Linked DNA regions of Homo sapiens. The protein of the gene in region 1 purifies or fractionates together with the protein of each later gene. This does not show direct contact. Each region holds a gene or a part of one and is shown in the gene's direction. Other genes may lie near its edges.

Evidence for each region.
Region 2: the proteins of ARMC6 (region 1) and TRIM33 purify together in Homo sapiens (co-immunoprecipitation; one large-scale study listed by IntAct). This does not show direct contact.
Region 3: the proteins of ARMC6 (region 1) and SLC20A2 purify together in Homo sapiens (affinity purification with mass spectrometry; 2 studies listed by BioGRID and IntAct, with this or other methods). This does not show direct contact.
Region 4: the proteins of ARMC6 (region 1) and SLC16A10 purify together in Homo sapiens (affinity purification with mass spectrometry; 2 studies listed by BioGRID and IntAct, with this or other methods). This does not show direct contact.
Region 5: the proteins of ARMC6 (region 1) and SLC12A2 purify together in Homo sapiens (co-immunoprecipitation; one large-scale study listed by IntAct). This does not show direct contact.
Region 6: the proteins of ARMC6 (region 1) and GALNT11 purify together in Homo sapiens (affinity purification with mass spectrometry; 2 studies listed by BioGRID and IntAct, with this or other methods). This does not show direct contact.
Region 7: the proteins of ARMC6 (region 1) and C1orf198 purify together in Homo sapiens (affinity purification with mass spectrometry; 2 studies listed by BioGRID and IntAct, with this or other methods). This does not show direct contact.

The regions. Positions count from the first base shown.
Region 1 is NC_000019.10:19,042,990-19,047,341, forward strand, and holds part of ARMC6 (armadillo repeat-containing protein 6), read left to right. Parts: intron 1-1,002; coding exon 1,003-1,085; intron 1,086-4,352.
Region 2 is NC_000001.11:114,399,028-114,403,379, reverse strand, and holds part of TRIM33 (E3 ubiquitin-protein ligase TRIM33), read left to right. Parts: intron 1-496; coding exon 497-620; intron 621-1,916; coding exon 1,917-1,991; intron 1,992-3,770; coding exon 3,771-3,923; intron 3,924-4,352. UniProt on the Homo sapiens protein: Acts as an E3 ubiquitin-protein ligase. Promotes SMAD4 ubiquitination, nuclear exclusion and degradation via the ubiquitin proteasome pathway. According to PubMed:16751102, does not promote a decrease in the level of endogenous SMAD4.
Region 3 is NC_000008.11:42,418,304-42,421,783, reverse strand, and holds part of SLC20A2 (sodium-dependent phosphate transporter 2), read left to right. Parts: intron 1-3,480. UniProt on the Homo sapiens protein: Sodium-phosphate symporter which preferentially transports the monovalent form of phosphate with a stoichiometry of two sodium ions per phosphate ion.
Region 4 is NC_000006.12:111,090,217-111,094,568, forward strand, and holds part of SLC16A10 (monocarboxylate transporter 10), read left to right. Parts: intron 1-4,352. UniProt on the Homo sapiens protein: Sodium- and proton-independent thyroid hormones and aromatic acids transporter.
Region 5 is NC_000005.10:128,184,256-128,187,813, forward strand, and holds part of SLC12A2 (solute carrier family 12 member 2), read left to right. Parts: intron 1-110; coding exon 111-246; intron 247-467; exon of another isoform or gene 468-533; coding exon 534-601; intron 602-2,240; coding exon 2,241-2,376; 3' UTR 2,377-3,558. UniProt on the Homo sapiens protein: Cation-chloride cotransporter which mediates the electroneutral transport of chloride, potassium and/or sodium ions across the membrane. Plays a vital role in the regulation of ionic balance and cell volume.
Region 6 is NC_000007.14:152,028,464-152,032,815, forward strand, and holds part of GALNT11 (polypeptide N-acetylgalactosaminyltransferase 11), read left to right. Parts: intron 1-4,352. UniProt on the Homo sapiens protein: Polypeptide N-acetylgalactosaminyltransferase that catalyzes the initiation of protein O-linked glycosylation and is involved in left/right asymmetry by mediating O-glycosylation of NOTCH1.
Region 7 is NC_000001.11:230,854,364-230,858,715, reverse strand, and holds part of C1orf198 (uncharacterized protein C1orf198), read left to right. Parts: intron 1-2,708; exon of another isoform or gene 2,709-2,838; intron 2,839-2,997; coding exon 2,998-3,048; intron 3,049-4,352.

The DNA.
Region 1 (4,352 bases):
GTGCCATTGGGCCCTGTCCCCTCCAGCTTCTGCCCGAGGCAGGCTGGTTATCCTGCTCCCACCTCTCACCTGCTTCCACCTCGCCCAGATATTTGTGGGCTGGATCCTTCTCATGAGTCTCATTTGATCACTTCCTTGAAGAGACTTTCCCTGACCCTGGCCTGGGAAACAGGGCCCCTGCCTCCCTGCCCTACTCTACCCTACCTCGAGCTTACAGAGGCAGAAGCAGCCTGTGGAAACAGGTGGCATGTTCAGACCAGGTGCAGATGAGTGTGGTTATGAGGGGCTGTTTGCAATGGTGTGGGTGGGGTTAGGAGACCACCCCTAGCACAACTAGCTCCGGCAGAGACCCTGACTGCAGGGAGCAGGAGTCCTGGGCAGGGGCCACATGATGGGTGCTGGGCCCTGGGGCAGAGGCAGGGGGCTGGGAATGAACACCCCACACTCCCCTCCTCCTGCCCCCATCTCAAGTTCACTTCCCCATTGAACAAACCCAGGGTACAGCCTGAGAGGTCAGAGGTCAGCCTCCTAGGCACAGAGTGGGGTATAGAACACTAGACAGGGGCCAGTGGGACAAGCAAAAGCGTCCAGCACTGTAGGGGCTCCCTGTGGGGGTGCCAGCAGGGGCAAGAATGCAGCCAGAGCCAGGAGGGATGGGAGCCCCAAGGGAGAAGGCTGTGGGGTCCCTCCCTCCCCCACCAAGCCCACCAGGCAGCATGTGGCACCTCACTGCACAGACGTGGCCTGTGATGACAGCCTTGTGTGACAACGGCCTCACTACCACTCTGCTCCCTTTGGCCCACGGACCAGTGGCAGAAACACCCAATACCCTCTACACCCCCGTGATGATGTGGCATGGGCGGGAATAGGGAGGTGGGAGGCTTCTGGAGTGGGGTGGTCCCAGCAGAAGGGTCCTGAGGTGTGATTCCAGCAGGCCCACGGGGATGACAGCTGTCACTTTCTTTCTGACCCCTGTGTGCTTGCTTCCCCCACCCCCAACAGGGGTTGATCTGAGCAACATTGTAAAGACGGCACCTAAAGTCTCTGCAGACGGATCCCAGGAGCCCACACATGACATCCTGCAGGTAGGAGTGGGCATCCCACACAGCAGGTCCTGCGTCACCTCTGTCTGGGGGCACCTCTTCCCTGTTTCCTGGATGGCAGAATACAGGCTCTGAAGGTCATGCCCTCCCCAGCATGCATGGGCAAGCTTGAGTTTGCAGCCAGGTCTCCCTGAGTCCATGTCCGAGGGCGGCATGCCTTCCAATGCAGGGGATCCCAGGCTCCTGTGGTGGCATGTATGCTGAAATCAGGTAGATGGCTTGGTTGTCCCTGCTGCTGGGATCCCAGAGTCAGGGACACCATAGAGGTGCCCCTCTGGCTTCCCAGAGACAGATGGTCAGGACTCATAGGACGAGAGAGTGGGCTCACAGTAAGGCTGTCACTTACTGAGCACTGACTGTTTACCAGCACTTTCCAGCCAGTCCGTTAGCACTGAAGCTCACCAGTGAAGTAGGTGGTGTCATTCCTGTCTTAGTGATGGGGAAACAGGCCAGGAGCTGGCACTTAACCTCTCCAGAGACCGAAAGAAGGAAGGTAAAAGAACTTCAATGCTTTCCGTAAGGTCGCCCATCAAACTTTGTAATACAGCAGAAGGCTCCGGTGTTTGAGAACCGACTGTGGGCCTGGTTCTGTGCAGGTACTTTTTTCCTGTCTTCTTGGTCACTGTCCAAACAACACCTGCAAGGCTGGGATTTCCCCATTGTAGAGATGGGGACATTGAGATCCAAAGAGAAGAGAAGTCATTGACATGGGAGCAGGAGGTGCAGTGATAGGAGAGGAAGTTGGAAGAGACGGCTCTGGGTGTAAACCCGGCTTGCCTAAGGCATGACACTTACTTCTCCCTACCTCGGGGTCCTGCCCTCTCCTGCCTTGAGGAGGTCTTGTGAAAATTGCCTCGTTGTTGTTAGTTTGCTTTTTGCCTTTCTTGCCTAATAAGGATGAATTTATTTTATTATATATATATTTATTTATCTATTGAGACAGAGTCTCACTCTGTTGCCCAGGCTGGTGTGCACTGGCGTGATCTCAGCTCACTGCAACTTCCACCTCCCAGATTCAAGTGATTCTCCTGCCTCAGCCTCCCGAGTAACTGGGATTACAGACACACGCCACCACACCTGACTAATTTTTTTGTGTTTGTAGTAGAGACGAAGTTTCACTATGTTGGCCAGGCTGGTCTCGAACTCCTGACCTCAGGTTATCTGCCCGCGTTGGCCTCCCAAAGTGCCGGGATTACAGGCATGGGCCACAGTGCCCAGCCTGGATGAATTTATTTTAAAATGAGTTTGTCTTCTGGCTATCTTTGCATTGGGTGATTCATCTTTTTCCTACTGATTTGTAGATGAAGTTTATATAGGAAGGATCTCAATAACAATATCGTCTATATTGTCTAGCAGTTACTGCTTAAGTACTTCTTAAGTGCTCAGCATTATGCTAAATTCTTTTTTTTTTTGAGACAAGAGTCTCACTCTGTTGCCCAGGCTGGAGTACACTGGCGCAGTCTTGGCTCACTGCAACCTCTGCCTCTTGGGTTCAAGCAATTCTCCTGCCTCAGCCTCACAAGTAGCTGGGATTACAGGTGCACACCACCATGCCCAGCTAATTTTTTTTTTTTTTTGAGACAGAGTCTCGCTCTGTCACCCAGGCTGGAGTGCAGTGGCGTGATCTTGGCTCACTGCAAGCTCTGCCTCCTGGGCTCACGCCATTCTCCTGCCTCAGCCTCCCGAGTAGCTGGGACTACAGGCGCCCGCCACCATGCCTGGCTAATTTTTTGTATTTTTAGTAGAGACGAGGTTTCACCATGTTAGCCAGGATGGTCTCCATCTCCTGACCTCGTGATCCGTCTGCCTCGGACTCTCAAAGTGCTGGGATTACAGGCGTGAGCCACTATGCCCGGCCTATTATGCTAAATTCTTAAAATATGTTCTCTTAATCTGTGCTCAGCCCATCTTGCTGGTGAGGTATCTGAGGCTTCCCAAGGATCAGTGACCACGCCCCTGCACCCCGAAAGGTCAGCTGGTGAGAGGCAGAGCTGGTACCCGGATCCAGGAAGCAAAGCACTGAAAGGCCGTTCTACCAGCAGTACAGGAAACTCCGTGTTTGTTTATAACATTCGCTCCTTTTTTTTTCTTAACTGTTCTTTTATTTATTCATTTATTTATTGAGACAGAGTCTCGCTCTGTCGCCCAGGCTGGAGTGCAGTGGCGTGATCTTGGCTCACTGCAAGCTCCACCTCCCAGGTTCATGCCATTCTCCTGCCTCAGCCTCTGGAGTAGCTGAGACTACAGGCGCCTGCCATGACGCCCGGCTAATTTTTTGTATTTTTTAGTAGAGATGGGGTTTCACTGTGTTAGCCAGGATGATCTCGATCTCCTGACCTTGTGATCCGCCTGCCTCGGCCTCCCAAAGTGCTGGGATTACAGGTGTGAGCCACCACGCCCAGCCTATTTATTTATTTTTTGAGATGGAGTCTCACTCTGTTGGCCAGGCTGGAGTGTAGTGGCCCTTCCTCAGCTCACTGCAGCTTCCTTCTCCCAGGTTCATGCAATTTTCCTGCCTCAGCCTCCCGAGTAGCTGGGATTACAGGCGTGCACCACCACGCCCAGCGGATTTTTGTATTTTTAGTAGAGATGGGATTTCACCACATTGGACAGGCTGGTCTTGAACTCCTGACCTCAAGTGATCTGCCTGCCTCGGCCTCCCAAAGTGTTGGGGTTATAGGCATGAGCCACTATGCCCAGCCTATTTTTTGTTTTGTAGAGATGGGATCTTGCTATATTGCCCAGGATGATCTTGAACACCTGCCCTCAAGTGACCCTCCCACTTTGCCCTGCCAACATGCCAGGATTACAGGTGTGAGCCAACATGCTCACCTGTTTTTTTTTTTTTTTCTTTTTCTATTTCTTTTTTTTTTTTTTTTGACACAAACTCTCACTCTGTCACCCATGCTAGAGTGCAATGGCAGGATCTCGGCTCATTGCAACCTCCACCTCCCAGGTTCAAGTGATGCTCCTGTCTCAGCCTCCTGAGTAGCTGGGATTACAGGTACCTGCCACCATGCCTGGCTAATTTTAAATTTTATTTTTCATTAAGGAAGAGTGGAAATACATTCTTAGCATAAAGGATTCAAGCAATACTCAAGCATTTATAGTAAAATCTGAAAGTCCCTGCCTTGTCCCTCCCACCAGACACTGGGGTTTGCATCTCAGCGGTCAGTTCGCAACTGAACCAACCCCCTTCTCAAATGCCCTGCAGCATAATTGACCTTTGTGCATCTTGGCTTAGATGTG
Region 2 (4,352 bases), on another chromosome or scaffold:
AGGTATATATACATGTGCTTGTGCCTGCAGGTATGTGTTTGTGTGTTCTAGGTTTTGACCACGAAAAAAGAACTGATTTACTTGTGGCATTTTAATACATGCCAAAACAGTACAAGATACCTGAGAAACTCTGCAACCTGTGCTCTTCTTCTTCATAAATAACTGAGTCCACATAATGGTGATACTGGGATCTGAGAGAATTGGTCTTAGGCCTTATGCTGCAAGTACTGCTCATCACTACTAAGAGACCCCCTTTTAATGCGGAGGTGCCATTTTTATAATGCATTCCAGAAAGTAATCAATTGATGCGTGACTAGGAAAATTTAGAGGAGTTTTTAATCACATGACTTCACCTGACGAGATTTCACAACTATAAAACCTCCCTTTTTTCAAAAAATTATTAAGAAAATAAACCAGGCCCCAGTCCAGGGAAGTAGCTTCTCTAGAGCAGGCTTTCTTATAATTACGTGGACTAATTGCCTATTTCCCTGTCTAGTGGGGACTGGATATGCACATTTTGTAGAGATATTGGAAAGCCAGAAGTTGAATATGATTGTGATAATTTGCAACATAGTAAGAAGGGGAAAACTGCGCAGGGGTTAAGCCCCGTGGACCAAAGGGTAAGTGTCAAATAAGTTGATTTGTCACTGGGATTCAGTAGTTGTCTGCCTATATATACACCTTTTTTTTTCCTGTGTAGCATACACAAAACCTGATAACATTTAATTTTTAATCCTGTCATCTGATGGTATATTGATGATTTCTGAAGTCTTTTTTTCCTCTAACCCTGAACTACAGACCCTTCTATCCAGATTCCTCAAACTTAACATGTCCCAACTAAAATCTTAATTTCTAATCCTCTCCCTCCAAGCACAAAACCAAGCAAATAACGACATAAAAAACTGTATTCCTCCCCCAGTATTCCCCTTAATTGAATGATACCACCATTCATTTCTGTTGCTCAGGTTAGAAACCTATTAGAAATGAAATAATAATAACTATAATATGATTTTCTTACCTTACATCATAATTTCTCATCTGGACTATTGTAGTGATCTCTTAACTGCTCTCCCCGCTTCTGCTCTTGACCTTTATAGTTTGTTTTCTGTATTAAACAGTGTTCTTTTTAAAAAAGTAAACAAGTCTATCATTTCCTTGCTTAAAATCCTCTAATAGCTTCTCATCATATTAAAAATGGAAACTCTCTCCTTACTTTACTCAGATTTTTACCAATCTGGCCTGTAGTCTGATTGCCAAAGACAGACTCTTTTGCATTGTCGTGTGGTCATTAGAGTTAAGTTTGGCTCTACTCTGGTGTATATACTGGTAAAAACCCTCATCCACTATCTGTGAAGACAAGATACGTGTTTAGGGTATACAAACTTGTATTAAAAGAAGTTTAGATAAATAGAAGACTGTGAATGTAAAATGCATTTCAGTTTACTCATGATTGGGTAAAAAAATATTTTTGGAGTTAGACTGAGAAGGCCATTTTCATTTTGAACCTGACTGGAATCATTTGAAGAAAGGGGATGATAACTTTCAACATTTGTCTTGCCTGTCTAAGGAATTACCATGAGGAGCAACAGTGATAATTTATTTACTTATTTATTTATTACCAAGTAATTTATAAATTTTTGCACAAAGTGTTAGATGTTGCTTTTGTGACTCCCTTCCATAAATTACCTTAGTTATCTTCCATTCTTACTTAAAGTAGAACAAAAGATAGTCTGAAAACAAAATGAGAAGCAAGGGAATTTTCTTTGGGTGTTTATGTTTAGTTGAGTATCTAGTAAACAGGGGGCTTGTGTTCAGTTTGTTGTAATCAAACTTTGTTGTGATATAGTTCTCATTCTCGAGAATGTTTTATTAGGAGAAAAATATTTCATGTGCTTTCCTTTCCTTGTTTGGGCCAGAAATGTGAACGTCTTCTGCTTTACCTCTATTGCCATGAATTAAGTATTGAATTCCAGGAGCCTGTTCCTGCTTCGGTGAGTTGCCTACCTTAGTAGCTCGGTGGGGAAGTCTCATAATACTTAAGAGTATGGGCTCTGGCGGCCGGGCGCGGTGGCTCACGCCTGTAATCCCAGCACTTTGGGAGGCCGAGGCAGGCGGATCACGAGGTCAGGAAATAGAGACCACGGTGAAACCCCGTGTCTACTAAAAATACAAAAAACTAGCCGGGCACGGTGGCGGGCACCTGTAGTCCCAGCTACTCCGGAGGCTGAGGCAGGAGAATGGCATGAACCCGGGAGGCGGAGCTTGCAGTGAGCCGAGATCGCGCCACTGCACTCCAGCCTGGGCGACAGAGCGAGACTCCGTCTCAAAAAAAAAAAGAAAAAAAAAAAAAAGAGTATGGCCTTAGACTAAGTTGTATTACACCTCAGCCTTCTGGAATAAGCTCTTCAACCTCTCTAAGACTCAAGTTTTCTGACACGATTTTTTACCTCATTGGGTTGTTCTGAGGATTATATAAAATAACCTATGTAAAATATTTAGCATAGTCTATAGTCATTGAGTTTTGTAAGGAATAAAGGCTCTAAAATGCTGCAATAAAAGGAAGATTAGAGGTGTTTGGTGCCTAATAAGTGGGGTAAGAATATTCTACACACATTTTATTGCTAGCCATCAGTTGTTGAATAGTACATTATTACATACCAGGCCTGTTAGAGAATATTAAATGGTAGTTGACTTGTTTACTGGGTAGCCTGAGAAATGAATTTTAAATCACAAAAGGTATAGACAGAAGGAAGATGTTTTGTACAAGCAGTAATCATCTGTTTCTGGAAAATTTGTCTCATCTTTAAGTGCAGGGATTTTAAAGTAGAAAATGACTTTCAAATGTTTTCTTTTTATGGACTATTAAAGTAGCTTCTTGGCCGGGCATGGTGGCTCATGCCTGTAATCCCATCATTTTGGGAGGCCTGGCAGGCAGATCACTTGAGTTCAGGAGTTCAAGACCAGCCTGGCCAACATGGTGAAACCCCCTCTCTACTGAAAATATAAAAATTAGCCGGGCGTGGTAGTGCATGCCTGTAATCCCAACTGCTAGGGAGGCTGAGGCAGGATAATTGCCAGGGGATGGAGGTGGCAATGAGCCACAGTTGGCGCCACTGCACCACTGCACTCCAGCCTGGGCGACAGAGCAAGACTCCATCTCAAAAATCAATTAGTCAATCAGTCAATAAAATAGCTTCTCTAACTTTACTTTTATCCCAAGGGTAGAAATTTTTCGCCAGAGTTGGGGTCAGAATTCCCTAGCGTGAACACTAAATGGTTAATAAAGTTAGTAAATTTTTCTTATGTTCTTAGTCTTACTTCCTCTGTTACTAAGTCAAGACTTCGTGATGTAAATGATATTCCCTGTTATGTTTTCCAAAAGACATCATATTCTAATTGTAACATTAATATATTTTGTAAATTTTTTTCTTTAAAAAAAAAAGAAAAACTCCTAAGGAGTCATAAAATTCTGGTAAGTCAAATGTTGCCTCAAGGCTACTGGTTGGTTACCCTTGCTAATTGCTTTCTTTCCAAATCTTATTATTAAAAGTAGGACTTTGGGGACTTGGACTAACCATGAAGATTGGCACATATGCCACATAAGATTTGGTTTTCATGAAGATGTAAAGTACATACGTCTATACTCAAAATTTGCAAGCAGCTGGCTCTATAATAATTTTTTTCCCTAAAATTAATATGCTATGCATTTTCAAATTAAACAGTTTGGCATTTTTGGAGAATTCTTATTTGCCATTATGTGCTTATTTTAGATACCAAACTACTATAAAATTATAAAGAAACCAATGGATTTATCCACCGTGAAAAAGAAGCTTCAGAAAAAACATTCCCAACACTACCAAATCCCGGATGACTTTGTGGCCGATGTCCGTTTGATCTTCAAGAACTGTGAAAGGTTTAATGAAGTATGTTAACTTCCAACCTATAGAGTCTTGATTTGTTAGTTTTTGTTTGTTTCCTTGTTTTATTTTTCTGCTGACTTTAATTTTATTAAAATTTTTTTTTCTGCTAAAGTCCTGTCAAAAGTAACATCTGATTGTATTAACAGCTCCAGTGAAGAAAATTTATTGTGTATAATTTGGAGTATATACTTAAATATAATAAATTAAGAATATTATCAAATATCCTTTTCTAAATGAGTTGAGGATTGGCATAAGTATGGAAAGTACTGTCAGTAGTTACGTATATTTTGTGGAATATGATTATAAACAGCTTACGTTTTGGGTACTATTAGGAAAGTTATCTGTACCCATGTCCTTGCATTTTATTATTGACAACATGAATGTAGAACCTTAAAATAACAAACTAATCTCTGGTGACCCATCTTGAATAGT
Region 3 (3,480 bases), on another chromosome or scaffold:
CCAGGCTGGAGTGCCATAATGGCATGATCTCAGCTCACCACAACCTCCACCTCCCGGGTTCAAGCAATTCTCCTGCCTCAGCCTCCCGAGTAGCTGGGATTACAGGTGTGCAGCACCACACCCAGCTAATTTTGTATTTTTAGTAGAGACGGGGTTTCTCCATGTTGGTCAGGCTGGTCTCGAACTCCTGACCTCAGGTGATCTGCCCGCCTCGGCCTCCCAAAGTGCTGGGATTACAGGCATGAGCCACCGCACCCGGCCGATATTCAGTATTTCTAAAACACTACTAGAGTTCGTAAGAGTGACCAAGTCCAAGGTAAAAATAGAAAAATCCAGCACTTGTTCATCAGCAATAGCCAATTAGAAAATGTAACGGGAGGGAAAAAAACTGCCACCATAATTGCAGCAAAAATAAAAGTTATCTCAGAATAATCCTAATAAGCACTGTGAGTGTCATCAGGCACATGGTGTGTTCTTATAGTCCCAGCTACTCAGGAGGCTGAAGGTACGAGGACAGCCTGAACCCAGGAGTTCAAGACCAGTCTAGGCAACATAGTAAGACCCCATCTCTAAACAACTAAATAAATAATTTTTTAAAAAAGAAATGTGAGTGATATATATGGAAGAGGCACAAAACTGCTCAGAGGTATAAAAAGATAATCTGAATATGAGACGTAATGTGCTATTGGATGGGAAAACCAGATGTTGTAATGAAGTCACTTCTCCCTAAATACAACCTGAACAGGATTTTACTTGGAATTTTACAAAACGAGACTAAAGAATACATTTTGGTGAAATAAATTATCAGCAATATAAAATGATCTAACAAGAAAACTGAAAGGAGGAACTAGCCTTACCTGACGTATAATGTCATATAAGGAAACAAAAGTCAAGAGTAGGTCCTGGGAGGAGGGGCTAGAACTGGGTGTTAGTGTTTTATGGGGCAGTTTCCCCGTGGGATGATGAAAAAGTTCTGGAGACAGATTGTGGTGATGGTTTGCAAAACAATGTGATTGTACTTAATGCCTCTAAATGGTATGCTGAAAAATTACTAAAACTGTAAGTTTTATGTTATGTATATCTTACCACAATAATTTTTAAAAGTAGATACCTGGATAAGAACAGAGTAGATAGCAATGGATGGAACCTGTTCTATATGAGCATGTATTTTGAAAAAGGGAAAATTTAACCAGTAAGTGTTTGAAAGGTTGAATAGCTGACTGTCAGTCTAGAAAAACAAAATTAGACCACTCTCAAAATACATGAACATAAATCTGATGGCTTAAATAATATTTTAAAAATATTCTTAAATTTAGAGTAAAATGGAATTTTATTTTAGAAAAATAAAATGGAATTAAATATTTATCAAATATTCAAGCCAAGGATAAATCACAGAAGAAAATTATAGCATATTTTATTGCATGAAGTTAGAAACTTGAAAGTGAAACAAAGCAAAATACTACCTTAAGAAAATGTGTATTCGATATCACAGAGTTAATATTATTCAGTGAAGACTACACATAAATAAATAAGGAACACATTAGATTTTAGTATGTAAATGGACAAAATACATGAAGAGACAATTTTTTTTTTTTTTTGAGACGGAGTTTTACTCTGTCACCCAGGCTGGAGTGCAGTGGTGCCATCTCGGCTCACTGCAACCTCCACCTCCCCAGTTCAAGCGATTCTCCTGCCTCAGCCACCCAAGTAGCTGGGACTACAGGTGTGCACCACCACGCCTAGCTAATTTTTTGTATTTTTAGTAGAGATGGGGTTTCACCCTGTTAGCCAGCATGGTCTTGATCTCCTGACCTTGTATCCGCCCGCCTTGGCCTCCCAAAGTGCTGGGATTACAAGCATGAGCCACTGCACCTGGCCGACAATTTGTATATGTGAAAGCTAGAGAGAGTGAAATTCAGTAAATATATTTTTTAAAGTTCAGCCTTAATTGTAATTAAAGATACGCAAATTAAAACAGCAACAGTGCATCTTTTTGTCGGTTAATTAGCCAAAAAAAGAGCAACTTACATGATATCATGTGCTGATATTCACAGATTATGGATGACACTACATTAACAGCTATTTATAAAACTATTTGTCATTATGTATTAAGGTCCTAAAACACGTTGGGAGAGGAAAGAGCTCTTCCTTGAAGTAGAACTCCATGTGAGAAATTGCAATGGACTTTGGTAAATCACCATTTTATTTTATTTATTTTTTATTTTATTTTTTTTTGAGACTGAGTCTCATTCTGTTGTCCAGGCTGGAGTGCAGTATCGCGATCTTGGCTCACTGCAACCTCCACCTCCCAGGTTCAAGTGAGTAGCTGGGATTCCAGGTATGCACCACCACACCTGGCTAATTTTTTTTATTTTTAGTAGAGACAGGGTTTCACCATGTTGGTCAGGCTGGTCTCGAACTCCTGACCTCAGGTGATCCACCCGCCTCGGCCTCCTGAAGTGCTGAGATTACAGGCGTGAGCCACCATGCCCGGCCTGGTAAATCACCATTTTATAGCCATCGTCATAAACATTGGATTGTGAAATCTTTAGCAGAAGGGGAAAGTGAGGTTTGATAAGATGCAGGATATTTTAATCATATTAAAAAGTCTCTTCACAGATTGTGGCAAATGTCAAAAAATAGTGAATTGGGTAAAGAGAAAACAGGAGTTCTTGCAGCTTTTCTCTAAGTTTTGAATTATTTCAAGATACATTTTAAATGTTCCCTGTTAACTACAGTCGATTTCAGGGAATTTTTTTTTTTTTTTTTTTTTTTGAGACAGAGTCTCTCTCTGTCGCCCAGGTTGGAGTGCAGTGGCATGATCTCCGCTCACTGCAAGCTCAATGCAAGCTCCGCCTCCCAGGTTCACGCCATTCTCCCGCCTCAGCCTCCCAAGTAGCTGGGACTACAGGCGCCTGCCACCACGCCTGGCTAATTTTTGGTATTCTTAGTAGAGACGGGGTTTCACCGTGTTAGCCAGGATGGTCTCCATCTCCTGACCTCGTGATCCGCCCACCTCAGCCTCCCAAAGTGCTGGGATTACAGGCGGAAGCCACCGCGCACGGCCGGGAATATTATTTTTAAAGCCAAAATCCAACCTGGGCACAGTGGCTCACGCCTGTAATCCCAGCACTTTGGGAGGCTGAGGCGGGCCGATCACTTGAGGCCAGGAGTTTGAGACCAGCCTGACCAACATGGCGAAACCCCATCTCTACTAAAAAATATGAAAATTAGCTGGATGTGGTGGTGCTTGCCTGTAATCCCACCTACTCAGGAGGCTGAGACAGGAGAATCGCTTGAACCTGGGAGACATAGCTTGCAGTGAGCTGAGATTGCACCACTGTACTCCAGCACTTTGGGAGGCCAAGGAGGGAGGGTCACTTGAGGTGAGGAGTTCCACATCAGCGTGGCCAACATGGTGAAACCCCGTCTCTACTAAAAATATGAAAATTAGCCAAGGGTGATGGCATGCGCCTGTAA
Region 4 (4,352 bases), on another chromosome or scaffold:
TATATATCATATAAACAGTTGCACAGGTGTGCTAGTTAAATGTGTGAAGATCTTTGTGTTTCTCTGCCTGACTGCTGTATATCTATTTATGGTTGTGCCATTGCACAAGGGTGCCCAACTCAGGGGTAAGTGGGGACTGAAAACCAGCCTGGGCTCTGGGTGCCCTTTGTCTGATTCCTACAGAAGGGCCCTATGCACTTGTAATGGCCCTGTATAACACAGCATCTAGATTGAACAATGGCCATTACTTGGGTGCTAGGTAATACATATATGACTGATAGATGTTAAGGGCTGAGGAAGAAAACAGATTTAAACTTAGTGCTGAAAAAATGGTTACAAGATAGTCTTTAAGCCAGTTATTGTTGAGATCTCTCTCTCTTCCCCTGTCCCCTACCCCTTTCTCTTTCCTTCAGTGCACACACACACACACAAAGGTGTTTCATGAAGTCCCTCATCTACCACAGTCACTGTTATTTGAGAATATCTGCTTTGAAGTTTGATTGGTCACACTTTTTCACTTTGATATTCGAATGCTGAGTCGTCTGTGATCAAGCATATGCAAGCTTCAAATACATGCCAAAAAATATCTGGAATTTGTTTAAGCCTTTTATTTTTCAAAGTTTTGGTCTATTTTCTATTACCGTACTCATGATGGATAATCCTGGTGTTAGAGTACAGCTAGTTCTGTCTCCTTGTTTCCATTACTTCTTTATAGCAAGTGACTAGCCTAAGGATATACAGGGAGGTGGTGGTGGAATGGAATCTAGGTCTCCAAATGATGGTGCGCATTTCTTGAGTACTTTCCTGTGGCTAAGCACTTTAGATGCGTTCCTATTTAAACCTTACCACGATTCTCTGATAGACTTTGTTAATATCTTTCTTTTCAGATATGGGAACTCAGGCTTACAGAGTTTAAGTAAGAAGTGGAGCCAGAATTCAACCCCAGGCTTATCTGACTCTAAGAGCTGGGATTTTTATTTTAATTATTTATTTATTTAAAATATGGAATGCTTCATGAATTTGCATGTCATCCTTGTTCAGGGGTCACGCTAATCTTCTCTGTGTCATTCCAATTTTAGTAGATTGTTGTTCAAAGTGCTGCTGAAGCAAGCACCAGGAGCTGGGTTTTAATCATTCATCATATTGCATTGACTAGATAACATTCTGCAAATACGATGTTTTTTATGTTGTTGATTAATTTAAGTGTTAGTGATTGGTTGAGTGCTCTACCATGCATTCTGGGATTAGAAAGAAGGGTCCCTGTTTCTTGGTCCTACTTTGTGGTGAATAAACAATTGCAAATTATTAATGTCTCAAACTATATTTCTGAAGTGTAGAGAGACTTCCATAGAAGAACAAGATACTTCCATATGCCGTTCAAGCAAAAGTCTGGGGTTTCCTTTGAAGAACTTTTAGATTGATCCACAGCAGGACAATGTTTCTAGGCAGAACTGAGGAGGAGCCTTTCTTAGGCTCACTTCTCTTCAGGGCTCTGTTAACTCTTCCCACGCAATGGATAATCTACCCAAAATTTCTCAGGAAAGGGCCTGAAGAAGTTCATTCACACTAAGGTGTAAGTGAGTTTACACATCTTACTGTTAATTCTCTTTATACAAATGTTTACCAAGTTATCTAACACGCTTTGTTTTGGGCTCTGTCCTGGGGACTGGAGATAATGACTGAGAGAGAAAATGTCAGCTGTTTCAAAGTAGCTTAGGATCTGTTGTGGGATACAAATTAATAACAGACCAGAAGTAATAGAATATTTCCCTGAAGGATTTTCAATATAACAGGACTCAGTTTTACTATAAAAGGCTGAAATTCTAAGGTCATTTCAACAGGTGGTGGGGTTGGGGGTGGGGAAGGCATTTGACGCCTCTTTCTCTATGGTTATAAATCTCACTTGGTGAAATTAAGACTTTGGAAAGGGGAAGTAAGCCAACTCCAAGTTGGGCAGTAGAACCAATGAAAAATGCTGACGGCATCACAGTCCCATTATGGTGCCCAGCTGCCAATGACATGGCACTCAGAGGAGTGTCTCACACATACTGCTCTGTCTGAGGGAGCAAGCTAAGCTTGAGTTGTCTCTTTTTTTGTTGTTTTTTTTTTTTTTTTTTTTTTGAGACAGATTCTCACTCTGTCGCCCAGGCTGGAGTGCAGTGGCACCATCTCGGCTCACTGCAACCACTGCCTCCCGGATGCAAGCAATTCTGCCTCAGCCTTCCGAGTAGCTGGACTACCTGCGCTTGCCACCACACCTGGCTAATTTTTGTATTTTTAGTAGAGACAGGGTTTCACCATATTGGCCAGGCTGGTCTCAAACTCCTGACCTCGTGATCCACCTGCCTCGGCTTCCCAAAGTGCTGGGATTACAGGCATAAGCCACCGCGCCTGGCCAAGTTGTCTCTTTTTAGTTGAATTTTTACCTGTTCACATGTGTATTCTTCTTGCCTAGGTAGAGAGGAATCAGACACTCTGGGGAAGAATACAAAGAAATACAATTAAGTGGAACATTGTTTTTCTTTAGAAAGTGCAATTTTGGGCTGGGCGCAGTGGCTCATGCCTGTAATCCCAGCCCTTTGGGAGGCCAAGGCAGGTGGATCACCTGAGGTCAGGAGATTGAGACCAGCCTGGCCAAGATGGTGAAACCCCGTTTCTACTAAAAATACAAAAAATTAGCTGGGCATGGTGGCGGATGCGTGTAATCCCAGCTATTCGGGAGGCTGAGGCAGGAGAATTGCTTGAACCTGGGAGGCAGAGGTTGTAGTGAGCCAAGATGGCGCCACTGTACTCCAGCATGGGCAACAAGAGTGAAACTCCGTCTCAAAAAAAAAAAAAAGAAAAGAAAAAAAGAAAAAAGAAAGAGCAACTTTGTTTTAACTCTGCTAGATACTGGAAAACCCATGGAACTAATGAAGAGCCTAGGGCTTTTTATTTGTTTTGAGATTGTGCCATTTCACTCCAGCCTGGGCAACAAGAGAGAAACTTTGTCTCACACACAAAAAAAGTGTAAATCAAAACATTAAAAATTAAGTAGTTTGGAAGTAGATTATCAAAAAGGTCCTGAAAGGGAGGTTCTTTGGCTATAATCTTTAACGCAACTCTACACTCCCTGTATGGAGACAGATTTCTTTTTAGATGGTTACAGTCACAAAGTAGGGTTTTCAGTAGCATTTAGGGATGAATGAATCTTGCAGCACCTCTCCATGTATCTTGCTAGCCCCTCTGAAACTTCAGGTCAGTTAGTGCTTCCTCAGAAATTGTTCCCCCCACACCAAGTTTTCACATTTACAGTTATACTGATATCCACATTGTACTGTTGTATGTGACACCTAGATTATAGGAAATTTTGGCTATAGTTCAGAAATTAACTGCTATGTTTTGCCTTTACGCTAAAGAGATTTTGTTTTGTTTAGTAGGAAAAGCGGCCTGCATAACTAGCCATTTCTGTATCTTAGAAAAATTTTTAGTAACAGTCCTTTGTTGAGCTAGTTACAGTGAACAAATAATCTGGTTCATGGTCCTATACATCTTTCACTATAAGAAAAATACCTGATTGTTATTTACACTGGAAGAGAGGTAGAAAAGCTAAGAGAACTCACTTATGGCAATAAACCAATCTAAACTACCTGCTAAAATAAGTGAGAAGATTATAAAAATGGTTCTAGGATTTTGGAATAATAGTGAGTATGGTATGGGCGTTTCATACTTCATTTCCAGAATGTTTCTGGATTAAGTGCGAGACTGAATAGCATATATAGTGAATTCTAATTAAATACAACAATGTGAGATTCCTGTGGTGTTTTTTCATGGAATTAAAAATTAATAATTTCAATAAAATTAACTGCTGAAAGAACCCAATTAGCCAAAATGAAAAGCATAACACATTTTTTCAGGAGCGATTTTGAGGTGTCTTTTAGAATAAATTGTACTCTGCTTTTGATGTGATTTGCTACATCTTTTTGTTGCAGTTCCTTGAGGCTCAGCCCCTGGCCATATACTTGCTTCACTTTTCCTGCTTTCTTCCATCCACTGTCTTGGGGCTGTTATTTCCAAATCTCATCACTGTGTTCAAGACTTATTTACTATTTCTGGACAGTTCCATTTGGGTACACAGGTACATCATACTAAACTAACATGAACTCATTTTTCAGCTACACCATACAACCTTCCCTTACTACCAAAAATGACAGCCCATTTGTCGGCATTCTTCTGAATCCATATTCCTCCTTCTTAATTCTCTGTGCATGATACCTCTGGTTGTTTAAGTCAGAAACCTGGAATGTATCTTAGCTTCTTATTTCTCTTCCTTCCTTACCTGTTTTGTTAAATCAGAGTTCTTTTGTGTTTAC
Region 5 (3,558 bases), on another chromosome or scaffold:
GTAATAAATGAGAGGCACTAACTTTGCAAGTTACAATTTAATATTTAAGATCTTCCTGTTATGTAACTTAAAATAAGATTAGTTGTCAGTATTCTTTCTGTTTTTTAAAGTATTATAGCTTTTGAGGAAATCATTGAGCCATACAGACTTCATGAAGATGATAAAGAGCAAGATATTGCAGATAAAATGAAAGAAGATGAACCATGGCGAATAACAGATAATGAGCTTGAACTTTATAAGACCAAGGTATTCTCTTCTGCTTCCTTTTCATTAATCTTTTATATAATAAAAGACATGAAAACCAAGAACTTTAATTTGATATAGGAGGGTCAGTTGTATAAATGAACTCTACTTTAAAATAGATTTATTTGAGGTTAGTGGAAAGCATTTTTAAAAAAAATAAAAATAGAGAACAGATATTTTTATTACACGAAAATTCATTTCAGTTTCTTTTTGTCTCCTTATAGTTTTATGAACCATGCTAAATTCTTATTTCCACATGGTCTAGGAATGACTGTCCTGTTTCATTTCAGACATACCGGCAGATCAGGTTAAATGAGTTATTAAAGGAACATTCAAGCACAGCTAATATTATTGTCATGTAAGTAATATCTTTATAAAGATTTTCTTGCTAATTTATGATAATATGCTTTGAATTAATTTCTATTCCAAGTACATATCTATATAACACCCATATTGACTTAGTGGTTATAAGGAGGAAAAAACAAACTTGTAAAAATATACTATGCTTTAAGCATATGGAGAAAGACAAAAACTTTAACCTTATGCTTATATGAATCCCAAGTAATCTTTTTATCATAGTAGGTTATATTGGAACCTTTTGTTTACCCTTCTTCTCACCTTTTTAAAATTCCTTATCTTTGTAAACACTACAGCATAGCCGTTAAGCACGTGTGGATAGGAGGGTCCTACGTTAAAATTTGGGCCCCGGACAGCTTCCTCTTGAAAATAATTCAAAAAATGTTATTTGGCAGATTAAACTTGAATAGTGATTCCTATCTGGATCCCCATTCTTATGTTTCCAACACGCAAATTTTACATACAGACACATTGTCCTTGAGTTAAATATGATACTAAATGCCTACTTTGGCTCTTCCTCTACTGAACTAGGTTAGCTATTCTTTGAACCCACATTTTCTGAGTTCTGGAACATGTGTCCTTAGATAGGAAAGCTCAGGCCTCTCCCCCACAAAAAAAGCCAAGTAATGAAAAAAACTACCAAAAGATTGTTAGTTTAACAACATTCAATAAATCAAAAAGTTTCAAGTTTTGCTGATGATAATCAAATACCTGTAAATGGAAAAGACACCAAAACATAGAAATTTAGAGAAAAACTATACAGCAATTGGTCACTGCTGCCACCATCCATAAATAGAAATTAAAACTAAGAGAAGATAAAAATTGCATTTATCCATATATAGCTTCTGTTTTCTAAATTTTGATAGTAAACATACCTTTCACCTAAAAGAATTCTATTCTTATTAAAGAAGGGGAAACCTAGGATTTAGTGTTAGATATCAGAGGTACTGTGGTTTATAGAAATACTTACTGTTCTTATGAACAAATTTTGAAAAATCTTTTGTTGAAAGATTATAGTCTTTTATATATGCATATATGATGGTGGTACCATAAGATTATAATACCATATGTTAAGCTGGGCATGGTGGTGTGCACCTGTAGTCTCAGCTACTTGGGAGACTGAGGTGGGAGGATTGCTTGAGATCTGGAGTTTTGGAGTTTTGAGTCCAGCCTGGGCAATGTATTAAGACCCCATCTCTCTTAAAAAAATATATATATATTTTTACTGTATCTTTTCTGTATTTAGATATGCAAATGCTTACCATCGTGTTACAGTTGCCTATAGTATTCACTACAGTAACGTACTATACAGGTTTGTAGCTTAGGAGCAACAGGCTGTGTCATATAGCCTAGATGTGTAGTAGGCTATACCATCTAGGTTTGTGTAAGTACTCCTGTGATGTTTTCACGAGGGCAAAATTGCCTGACAGTAAGTTCTGAGAAATGCGTCTCCATCGCTAAGCAACACAACTGTGGTTGTTATTCTATTTGCAGAATTCTCCTGCACTCAGAAATATTCTGTAATTATAGTAATTTACAGTAACTGTTATTGTAATCTACTTTATAATTTTTGCTACATTTTATTCTGTAAATGCATTGCTCAGGGTTTTTTTTTTTTCTTTTTCTCTTTTTGATACCAGGAGTCTCCCAGTTGCACGAAAAGGTGCTGTGTCTAGTGCTCTCTACATGGCATGGTTAGAAGCTCTATCTAAGGACCTACCACCAATCCTCCTAGTTCGTGGGAATCATCAGAGTGTCCTTACCTTCTATTCATAAATGTTCTATACAGTGGACAGCCCTCCAGAATGGTACTTCAGTGCCTAGTGTAGTAACTGAAATCTTCAATGACACATTAACATCACAATGGCGAATGGTGACTTTTCTTTCACGATTTCATTAATTTGAAAGCACACAGGAAAGTTGCTCCATTGATAACGTGTATGGAGACTTCGGTTTTAGTCAATTCCATATCTCAATCTTAATGGTGATTCTTCTCTGTTGAACTGAAGTTTGTGAGAGTAGTTTTCCTTTGCTACTTGAATAGCAATAAAAGCGTGTTAACTTTTTGATTGATGAAAGAAGTACAAAAAGCCTTTAGCCTTGAGGTGCCTTCTGAAATTAACCAAATTTCATCCATATATCCTCTTTTATAAACTTATAGAATGTCAAACTTTGCCTTCAACTGTTTTTATTTCTAGTCTCTTCCACTTTAAAACAAAATGAACACTGCTTGTCTTCTTCCATTGACCATTTAGTGTTGAGTACTGTATGTGTTTTGTTAATTCTATAAAGGTATCTGTTAGATATTAAAGGTGAGAATTAGGGCAGGTTAATCAAAAATGGGGAAGGGGAAATGGTAACCAAAAAGTAACCCCATGGTAAGGTTTATATGAGTATATGTGAATATAGAGCTAGGAAAAAAAGCCCCCCCAAATACCTTTTTAACCCCTCTGATTGGCTATTATTACTATATTTATTATTATTTATTGAAACCTTAGGGAAGATTGAAGATTCATCCCATACTTCTATATACCATGCTTAAAAATCACGTCATTCTTTAAACAAAAATACTCAAGATCATTTATATTTATTTGGAGAGAAAACTGTCCTAATTTAGAATTTCCCTCAAATCTGAGGGACTTTTAAGAAATGCTAACAGATTTTTCTGGAGGAAATTTAGACAAAACAATGTCATTTAGTAGAATATTTCAGTATTTAAGTGGAATTTCAGTATACTGTACTATCCTTTATAAGTCATTAAAATAATGTTTCATCAAATGGTTAAATGGACCACTGGTTTCTTAGAGAAATGTTTTTAGGCTTAATTCATTCAATTGTCAAGTACACTTAGTCTTAATACACTCAGGTTTGAACAGATTATTCTGAATATTAAAATTTAATCCATTCTTAATATTTTAAAACTTTTGTTAAGAAAAACTGCCAGTTTGTGCTTTTGAA
Region 6 (4,352 bases), on another chromosome or scaffold:
ACAGAGCACTGATTGGTGCATTTACAATCCTTTAGCTAGACTGAAAAGTTCTCCAAGTCCCCTACCCGATTAGCTAGACACAGAGCACTGATTGGTGTGTTTACAAACCTTTAGCTAGACACAGAGCCCTGATTGGTGCATTTACAATCCTTTAGACAGAGTAGTTCTCCAAGTCCCCACCCGACCCAGAAGCACAGCCAGCTTCACCTCTCAATCCCCCCCCTCTAAACAGGACACCCCAACTGCTGTTGGGAATTTGGCCAATGACTGCTGTAGCTACTTCCTGCTGGATAGGGGTGAAGAAGGGGCCCTGCAATTGTAGTGTCCTCCAGAGGGGAACTCTTTAGGCCAGTGAAAGGGCCAGCAGGTTGGTCCAGGGGTCCTGGTAGAAGTTTAGTTGAGCTCATTTGGAGTTCCATTTGTAAGACCATCTGTAGCTTGATGGTCTCAATTCTAGAGGAAACAAATTTGAAAAGGAGGTTAAAAATACAGGGCCCGAAGGCAAGTAATAGCAAGATGGCTGCCACAGGACCTAGAAAGGGGAGAAGCCATGTTGTCCAACTCCAGAGGTTGGTGTAAGAGTTTGAAAGGCGTCTGATTTCAGAAGCCTTTTCCTATAAATGTTGGGTGGCATCTCATACTATCCCTGACTGGTTAGTGTAAAAACAACACTCTTCCCCTAAGAAGGTGCAGAGTCCTCCTTTCTCAGCAGTGAGGAGGTCTAGGCCTCGGTGGTTTTGGAGAGTCATTGCTGCCAAAGAGTCTATTTGGAATTGTAGTTACTATCCTTACTGGATAGATTTTGTTATTTCTTGCAAACTCTCTTGAGAAATCCTTTGAGAGTGTGGTAGTAGGATAATGAAGTAGGTAAACTGGCTATTCCAGTTCCTGTAGCAGTGGCCATTTCTAACCCTATAGGTAGGGGTATTAGTTGTATGGCTCTGCACTGACGGACTTGAGCTTTGAGGGGTACTGATAGGGTCTGATTTCCACAAGATTAGAAGTTAGAATAATATATGTTTACACTGTTAACTTTTAGCAAACTTTACTTTTGTTGAAAACCTTGTAAGTTTGGGATTTCAATTATTCTTTGCTATTAATAAGACCTCGTTCAGTCCATATTAACTTAGAATTGATATAGATGGCTCCTTCCTGATTCTGTAAGTACTTTAAGGTTTGGCTGAGTGCAAACAGCTCGCACATTTGAGCAAACCAATTATTAGGCAGTTTTCCTAACTCTGCTTCTACAGTTCCCTTATCATTTACTGAATACCCCTTGTGTCTTTTTTCCTTAATCACCCAGGAGGAACCATCTATGGTCCTGTCCTGAAGGGAGTTCCTCCTAGATCTGGTCGGACCTTTGTATGGTAGTTAGTTAAGATTTAGATCCCCTGTTAGGAAACCTGCTGGGTTAAGGATTTTTGATAGGAAGGCTATGGGTTGTCAGTGGCCTCAGTGCTTTTGGGCTACGCCCTTGTTTACACTGACAACAAGGTGGTATTGGAGTGTTACAGAGTTACAGAGAAGGCCTTCAATTATCAGTTATAGGTTTTAACTTTACTGTGGCTTTTAAAGGAATAGGGTGTAGGGTCCAGCCCCACAGGGTCGGTGGGTTTTTTCCCCGTGTGCGGAGACGAGAGAGTGTAGAAATAAAGACACAAGACAGAGATAAAAGAAAAGACAAGAGGTAGAGGAGTAGAGTCTTCTGTAAACTCCCACGGGGAAAGGGAGACTCCCTTTCCTGGTCTGCTAAGTAGCGGGTGTTTTTCCTTGACACTGATGCTACCGCTAGATCACGGGACGCTGGTGTTACCACTAGACCAAGGAGCCCTCTGGTGGCCCTGTCCGAGCATAACAGAAGCCTCAACTCTTGTCTTCTGGTCACTTCTCACTATGTCCCCTCAGCTCCTATCCCTGTATGGCCTGGTTTTTCCTAGGTTATGATTGTAGAGTGAAGATTATTATAATATTGGAATAAAGAGTAATTGCTACAAACTAATGATTAATGATATTCATATATAATCATCTCTATGATCTATATTTAGTATAACTTCTTATTTTATATATTTTATACTGGAACAGCTCGTGCCCTCAGTCTCTTGCCTCGGCACCTGGGTGGCTTGCCGCCCACAATAGGGTACACTGTTTTTTCTTTACTACTTCTATCTCTCTTTCTCTTTGATGACTTCTTTGTCTCTCTGAGTCCCTCTTTGTCTGTCTCTTCCTCTCTCTCTTTGCCTTTCTATGTCTCTCTCTCTGACTCTCTCTTTGTCTCTGTCTCTTTGACTTTGTCTCTTTCTTTCTCTCTGACTCCTTTGTCTCTCACTTCCTCTCTCTGTGTCTCTCTCTGATTTTCTGTTTCTTTCTCTCTTTCCTTTCTGCTGGTCTTTCCCTTCCTCTGCCAGCCACTTATGCTGCTGTTCTCCCCTCTCCTTCCCGTTTTGATGGCTTTGGCAGTGTAAGACTGCCACCTCCTTGGGTTTTTGCACTGCATGCAATAACTCCATGGTTTCCTTGTGGTATTTAATGGGGGTTCCCCCAGAGGTTAGAAACTCCCTTTCTTTCCATATTGCAGCACAGGCATGTAGGATTAGATAAGCATACTTGCTACCTGTATACACATTTATTCTTTTTCCCTTTCCCAGTTCTAAGGCTCAGGTAAGTGCCACTAGTTCTCCTGACTGGGTGCTGGTCCTTGGGGGAGGAGGCTTACTTTCAAGTACGGTTACGTCACTAACTATGGCATAACCTGCCCTTCGTATCCCATTCTCCACAAATGAACTTCTGTTGGTATATAGATTAAGGTCAGGATTAGCTAAGGGGACTTATAAGAGGTCATCTCAGGCAGCATAAGTCTGGACTATAATTTGTTGGCAGTCATGCTCGATTGGTTCCCCATCCTCTGGGAGAAAAGTGGCAGGGTTGAGGGCCACGCATGTATGTATTTGAAGCACCGGTCCCTCAAGGAGTAGTGCCTGGTATCTAAGTAGGTGGTTGTCTGATAGCCATAAACTCCCTTTGGCACTTACTATGCCATTTACATCATGAGTAGTCCAGACAGTGAGATCCTTTCCTTGTATTATTTTGATAGCCTCTGACACTAGGATGGGTACTGCTGCAACTACCCTTAAACAGTGAGGCCAGCCTTTTGCTACTACATCAATTTCCTTACCTAGGTGTGCCACCAGTTGTCAGACACGAGTCTGAGTAAGGACTCCAAGAGCTATCCCTGCTCTCTCTGTGATGTATAAAGAGAAGTTTTGTCCTGTGGGAAGGCTTAAAGCTGGAGCTTGTACTAGGGCCTGCTTTAAGGTTTTGAAGGCTGTTTCTGCCTCTGGTTCCCATTCTACTAGATGAGTATTTGCCCTCTGGGTCTCCTTGATTAGAGTATAGAGGGGCCTGGCTATCTTGCTCTATCTGGGGATCCATAGTTGGCAAAAGCGGTGATTTGAAGGAACCCCCACAACTGTTTTAAAGTCTTAGGGTGAGGATAAGCCAGTATAGGCTGTATTCGTTCCTTGCCAAGGGTCCTGGTCCCTCTGGCTAAGATTAGGCCTAGATATTTGACCTGCTGTAGGCAAAGCTGGGCCTTTGACCTAGATGCCTTGTACCCTTGATTAGCTAGAAAATTCAAGAGATCTAGAGTAGCCTGCTGGCATGAGGCTTCCGAACTGGTAGCCAAAAGTAAATCATCCACATACTGAAGGACCAGAGTGCCTGGACTTGAGAAGTGGCCTAGATCTTGGGCCAGTGCCTGACCAAACAGATGAGGGCTATCCCTAAACCCTTGGGGCAAGACGGTCCATATAAGTTGGGATGTGTGGTCTGTGGGATCCTCAAAGGCAAAGAGAAACTGGGAGTCATGGGAGTCATAGTGCAGGGGAATACAGAAGAAGGCATCCTTGAGGTCCAGAACAGGGAACCATTCTGCTTCCTCTGGTATTTGAGAGAGCAGGGTATAGGGGTTGGGTACAACTGGATATAGAGGAATTACTGCCTCACTGATGAGTCTAAGATCTTGCACTAGACTCCACTGACCGTTCGGTTTTTGTACTCCTAGAATTGGGGTGTTGCAGGGACTGCTGCATTTCTTTACTAAGCCTTGAGCTTTTACATGTTTAACAATATCCTGTAATCCTTTATGAGCTTCAGGCCTTAAGGGATATTGCCTTTGATAAGGAAATGTGGTGGGATCTTTTAACCTGATTTGGACTGGGCAGGCATTTTTTGCCCTTCCAAATTGTCCTTCCAATGCCCAGACTTCAAGGTAGATTCCTTCCTCAAGTAGGTGACACCAAATGGGTAACTTGTTCCCCATATTCATGTAGATAATAGCTCCAGCTTTGGCTAAC
Region 7 (4,352 bases), on another chromosome or scaffold:
TCCATCATGCCCCACCCTGGCCAGTCAGTGGTCCTGCCCTCTGCCTGCCCCGCAGGTGTTCATGCACTTCCTCTTTCCATTTGGGTGGCCAGTGGCCTGTCTGATTCTGGATGGAAGGAGCACCTTTGCCAGTTGATTTCCATTTACCTTTTTCGAAAGATCCAAAGCTGGATCTCTACTCTACCCTGTGGATGGCCGGTTCTTCCTCCTGGAACTAAGAGCTGTGAAGAGCCGGTGAAGTCTTAGGGGGTGTGTGAGTGTGGGGTGTGGAGGCTGGGGAGGAAAATCAACCTGTGAAAATATCCAGGCTTGTGCAGAGATCATTTATTCACGAAGAGTTAATGAATGATTAACTAGAATAAATGATACTTACATTCCATCAGCCTCTTTTATTTTTCCCATGTGAAAACAAAGCCCTTCTTGGTTTGATTGCTTCTAAACGGAACTCAGAGGGTTCTGAGGATTTTAGGGACTTTGGTTATTTAGCTCAACTGTACCCCTAGCATGCACACAGAGACGTGGACAAGGAGCCCCCTAGAGCTGAAGGCTGGCCCTCTGCCTCTGCTAGGAGACATCTAATCACAAAGCCTTGGTAACTCACATTCCTCCAGGCATCCATTTCCATTTTTGGAGGAATGAAGTTTGTGCATTGGGAAGTGACTTGAGTTTAACTGAAATTCCAAACAAAAAGGCAGTGGTTCCTCTCATTTTTAAAGGTTTTGCTTGACAGCCATGAGGCACTGCATACCAATCAGTTCAGAAGTCAGGATCATAAGCAAATACCATTACAGGACAGTGACTGTAACACTCTGAGGATGGGGGTCATCTTACTGTGCACATGGTCATTAGTTGCACACACTATGTGGTTCTCAGAACTGACTGTTTGATACACTTTAATGCAGCTTAACCCAGTTTGTAGGGCTTTTCCCTCACTTTTGTAATTCTTAATATTTATACCTAGTATCTTTGTTAGTGGTGTTTTTTTTCCTGATATAAATATATTTAGTCCTTTTATATGCTGTCCTGGGAAAATAAAGACCTGGATTCTGGCCTTTTGACAGTCTCCTCTCTGGGTTTTCCTTGCTCTTTATCCCCAGCATATGTGAAGTATTTGTGCCACAAATGTACCAGCCTCTACTGCACAGAGCCAAGGCACACAGCACAGCCATCAGGACACAGAACCAGATCTCTACCCTGTTGATGGCTGGCTCTTCCTCCTGGGGCCAAGAGCTGTGAAGAGCCTGTGCCCCCACATTGGGAAGTCTTGGGGGAGTGTGAGTGTTGGGAGCGGGTGATTGTGGGGGAAAATCAACCTGTGAAAGGATCCGGGCTTGTGCAGAGTTTGTTTATTCACATATTCTCAAAGAGTGAGTAAGCGTCCGCTACGGGCAGTCGCTGAGTCTTCCGGGCACTTGGGATAGAGAAGCGGACAAAGGCCCTGCTGTGTTGCCCCTGTCATCTAGGGTTGGCCGTGCTTGGGCTGTGCTGGGGAGTCATCACACACTTCCTTCCCTGTCCCCGCTTCTTGGGAATAGGCCTTCAGCTGCCCAGACCCTGGCATGCCTTCGTTATTTGAGTTCAAAGACTGACCTCCCACTGGCTGTTCATGTTAGGAGGCGTCTGCACAGAGAACGCACACTCGGGGTCTGGAAGGCTGAATGTGTACACTTATGTGTTGGTGAGGCACTCCCCCTGCGTGGGCCCTGGCATTTGCCCCCAGTGTCTGAGGCTAAGCTAGGGTGGCGGAGGCTCTGTCAAAAGCTGAAAGAAGAGGGTCTGTGGGCAGAACTGGTTTGCCCTGTAGAGGAGAGGGAAGCCAGACCCTTGACTTAGGGGCGCAGAGTCGGTGTACCTATGGGTGGGAAGAAGACAGTTATCCAGGGATACTTACGGAAGGACATAAATCACCTGGAGTTTTGGGGAGATATGGATATGATCTCCGTTTAAAATATTTTATCCCATTTTAGCCTGTATCACCCAATGTGTCCTGATTTTTTGTTCTGAAAATATGCTCCCAGTAGAAGCAGTCAGACATGGTGCACACCTGTAGTCCCAGCTGCTCTGGACACCCAAGGCAGGAGCATCCCTTGAGCCCAGGAGTTTGCGTCCAGCCTGGCCAACATACTGGGACCCCATCTCTTAAAACAAACCAACAAACAAACAAAAGTTACCCAATCGAAGCTGGACACAGATGAGACATTTGCTAGCACAGGAATAACTGCGGGTAGAGGGTGGGATATAAGGAAAGGTGGCTTCCCCAAGTCATTTGTGCAGGCCAGTGAACAAAACATACTGGATCCAAGGTCAAATTCGTAGTGATTGTTCTATAGGGCTCTTTCTGTCCTGTTCTGTTTGGTGGGGGTGGGGAGTGATTTCAGAGTTCTTGTTATAATTAGTCACATGGATTACATTGGCGTTTTTCTTCATTGATTCTGCTGATCCATGCCCTCGAGCTCTCTGGTAGGCCTGTTGGGGAGGAGGGGAGCTCCTGTATTGGCATTGACTGGCAGATTATGGCTTGGCGTTCTTTTCCCAGATTACCTCATTTAATCCTTACAACAGCCCTGCAAGGGAAGTATCATTTTGCTTTTACAAATGAGAAAACTGAGGCTCAAAAAGGCTGAGTCATCTTCCCATGGCCACACAGCTAATCATTGTTCAGGGCTGAGTCTGTGCCTGATTCTGCTGAGACCATCAAGCCCTCATCCACTCCTACTCATCTCATCTGTCTGAGTCCATTGGGGGGCCTCACCGGCATTCCCTGTTGTCTGTTTGGCTGGGGAGGGGAGTGTCTGGCAGCCTCAGCGGGAAAGATGAGGGAGCAATCTGATCAAGACGGTCAGCGCATTATATTGAGAGTGTCAAAGCATCAGGCTTGTTTAGAGCCAGGAGTTGGGATTATTCCTAAGTTTTGGTTCCCCCACGGTCCTGGGTGGATATTTGCATGGGGTATGTCTGGGTTTGAATTTCAGACTTATTCTCGATTTTTTATTTCAGGATCTAACTTGGCAAGATGAGCACTCTGCCCCTTTCTCCTGGGAAACAAAGGTAAGTTGGATTAAATTTAGATCTATTTGTTCTTTTAAAAAGAACTGAGTAGTTGTATATTTTTCTTTCAGCATTTGATGGACTCAGAAGACAGCCCCCTGACTGCCAGGCTGCAGGGGATGTGTCCATTGTTGGTAGAAAAGGAGGGGATGGGAGGAGCATGGTGAGGAATTAGGAAACTATTGTGTGTGGTTTGGTGATAGTGAGTTCAAAGTAGTAGTGCTTTCTGCCAGGGTCCAATGACGCCCCATGATGCCCATTGTCTAGGACTCCCGGCCAGCTTGGTTAAGGGGGCCAGCCCTCTTGGGGGCCCTGTCTCTGCTCATACCTCTGGTTCCCAGCACTTAGCACCTTGATGGGAGATGCCCCATAAGACAAAGCTTTGAGCAAATGGGAGGTGACGAGCTGATTGATAGACATAGACATCCATTTAGCTAATTCATCCCAACGTGGATCACTAATTCTGTCTCCCAGTCATTCTTCTTCTCATCATTATCATCATCATCACCAGAGTTGCTTAAGAGCATCAAGCTTCACTGATTTTAATTCATTTTCCCCATCTCCTAAGTTGCCCCAGTAGAAGTACATTCATAAGCAAAATGACTAAAAGACAGGTGTCTTTAACCCAAGGGACAGAAATAAAAGACCAAGATTTTCTGAATTCTGGAACATTTGGTGATGTGTGTTGGAGGGTTCTTTACGTCATGAGAGTGTGTTACAGACAGAGACGGTGGTGAGCCTGGAATAGGGCTCGGACTGCTGGGCAGATCAGGGTTTTTAAATACTGATACCTCAAGGCACTTGTTTTTTGGTTTTTCACTTGTCCACATCATTGCTGATCAGAGCCCTCATCCCAGCAGGAGACCTATGAGGAGGGTGGGCCAGAGTGGTTCATGAAGGACCCTGAGAGGCCCTCATGTTGGCGACTGTGTCTTAAAATGAAATATTGCCCAAGGGTTCAGATGGACACAAGGACAGCTGACACTGTTCTTGGCACACAGACAGTATTTAGTAAGCTATTGCCGATTGCCCTGGGTGAAGTGAGCTGGCCTCAGGGCGTGGGAGCGTGGGACAATTGAGATGAGTGTTAGAGTTAAGAGGTGGTTTTGGGGAAGGCATGGCATTAATGTAGTCTCCCTAGGGATCGGGTACGGGTTGCAGGGGTGACCAGCACTGTCTTGGGAGAGAGCACAAGATGTTAAGGAGCCGCCTGCAATTGGAATAGCTTCTAAATCCAACACTGGATCCTGTGTCTACTGACATTGCAAAGGAAGTCATAAGTGGGTAAAAAGTGCATCATTACA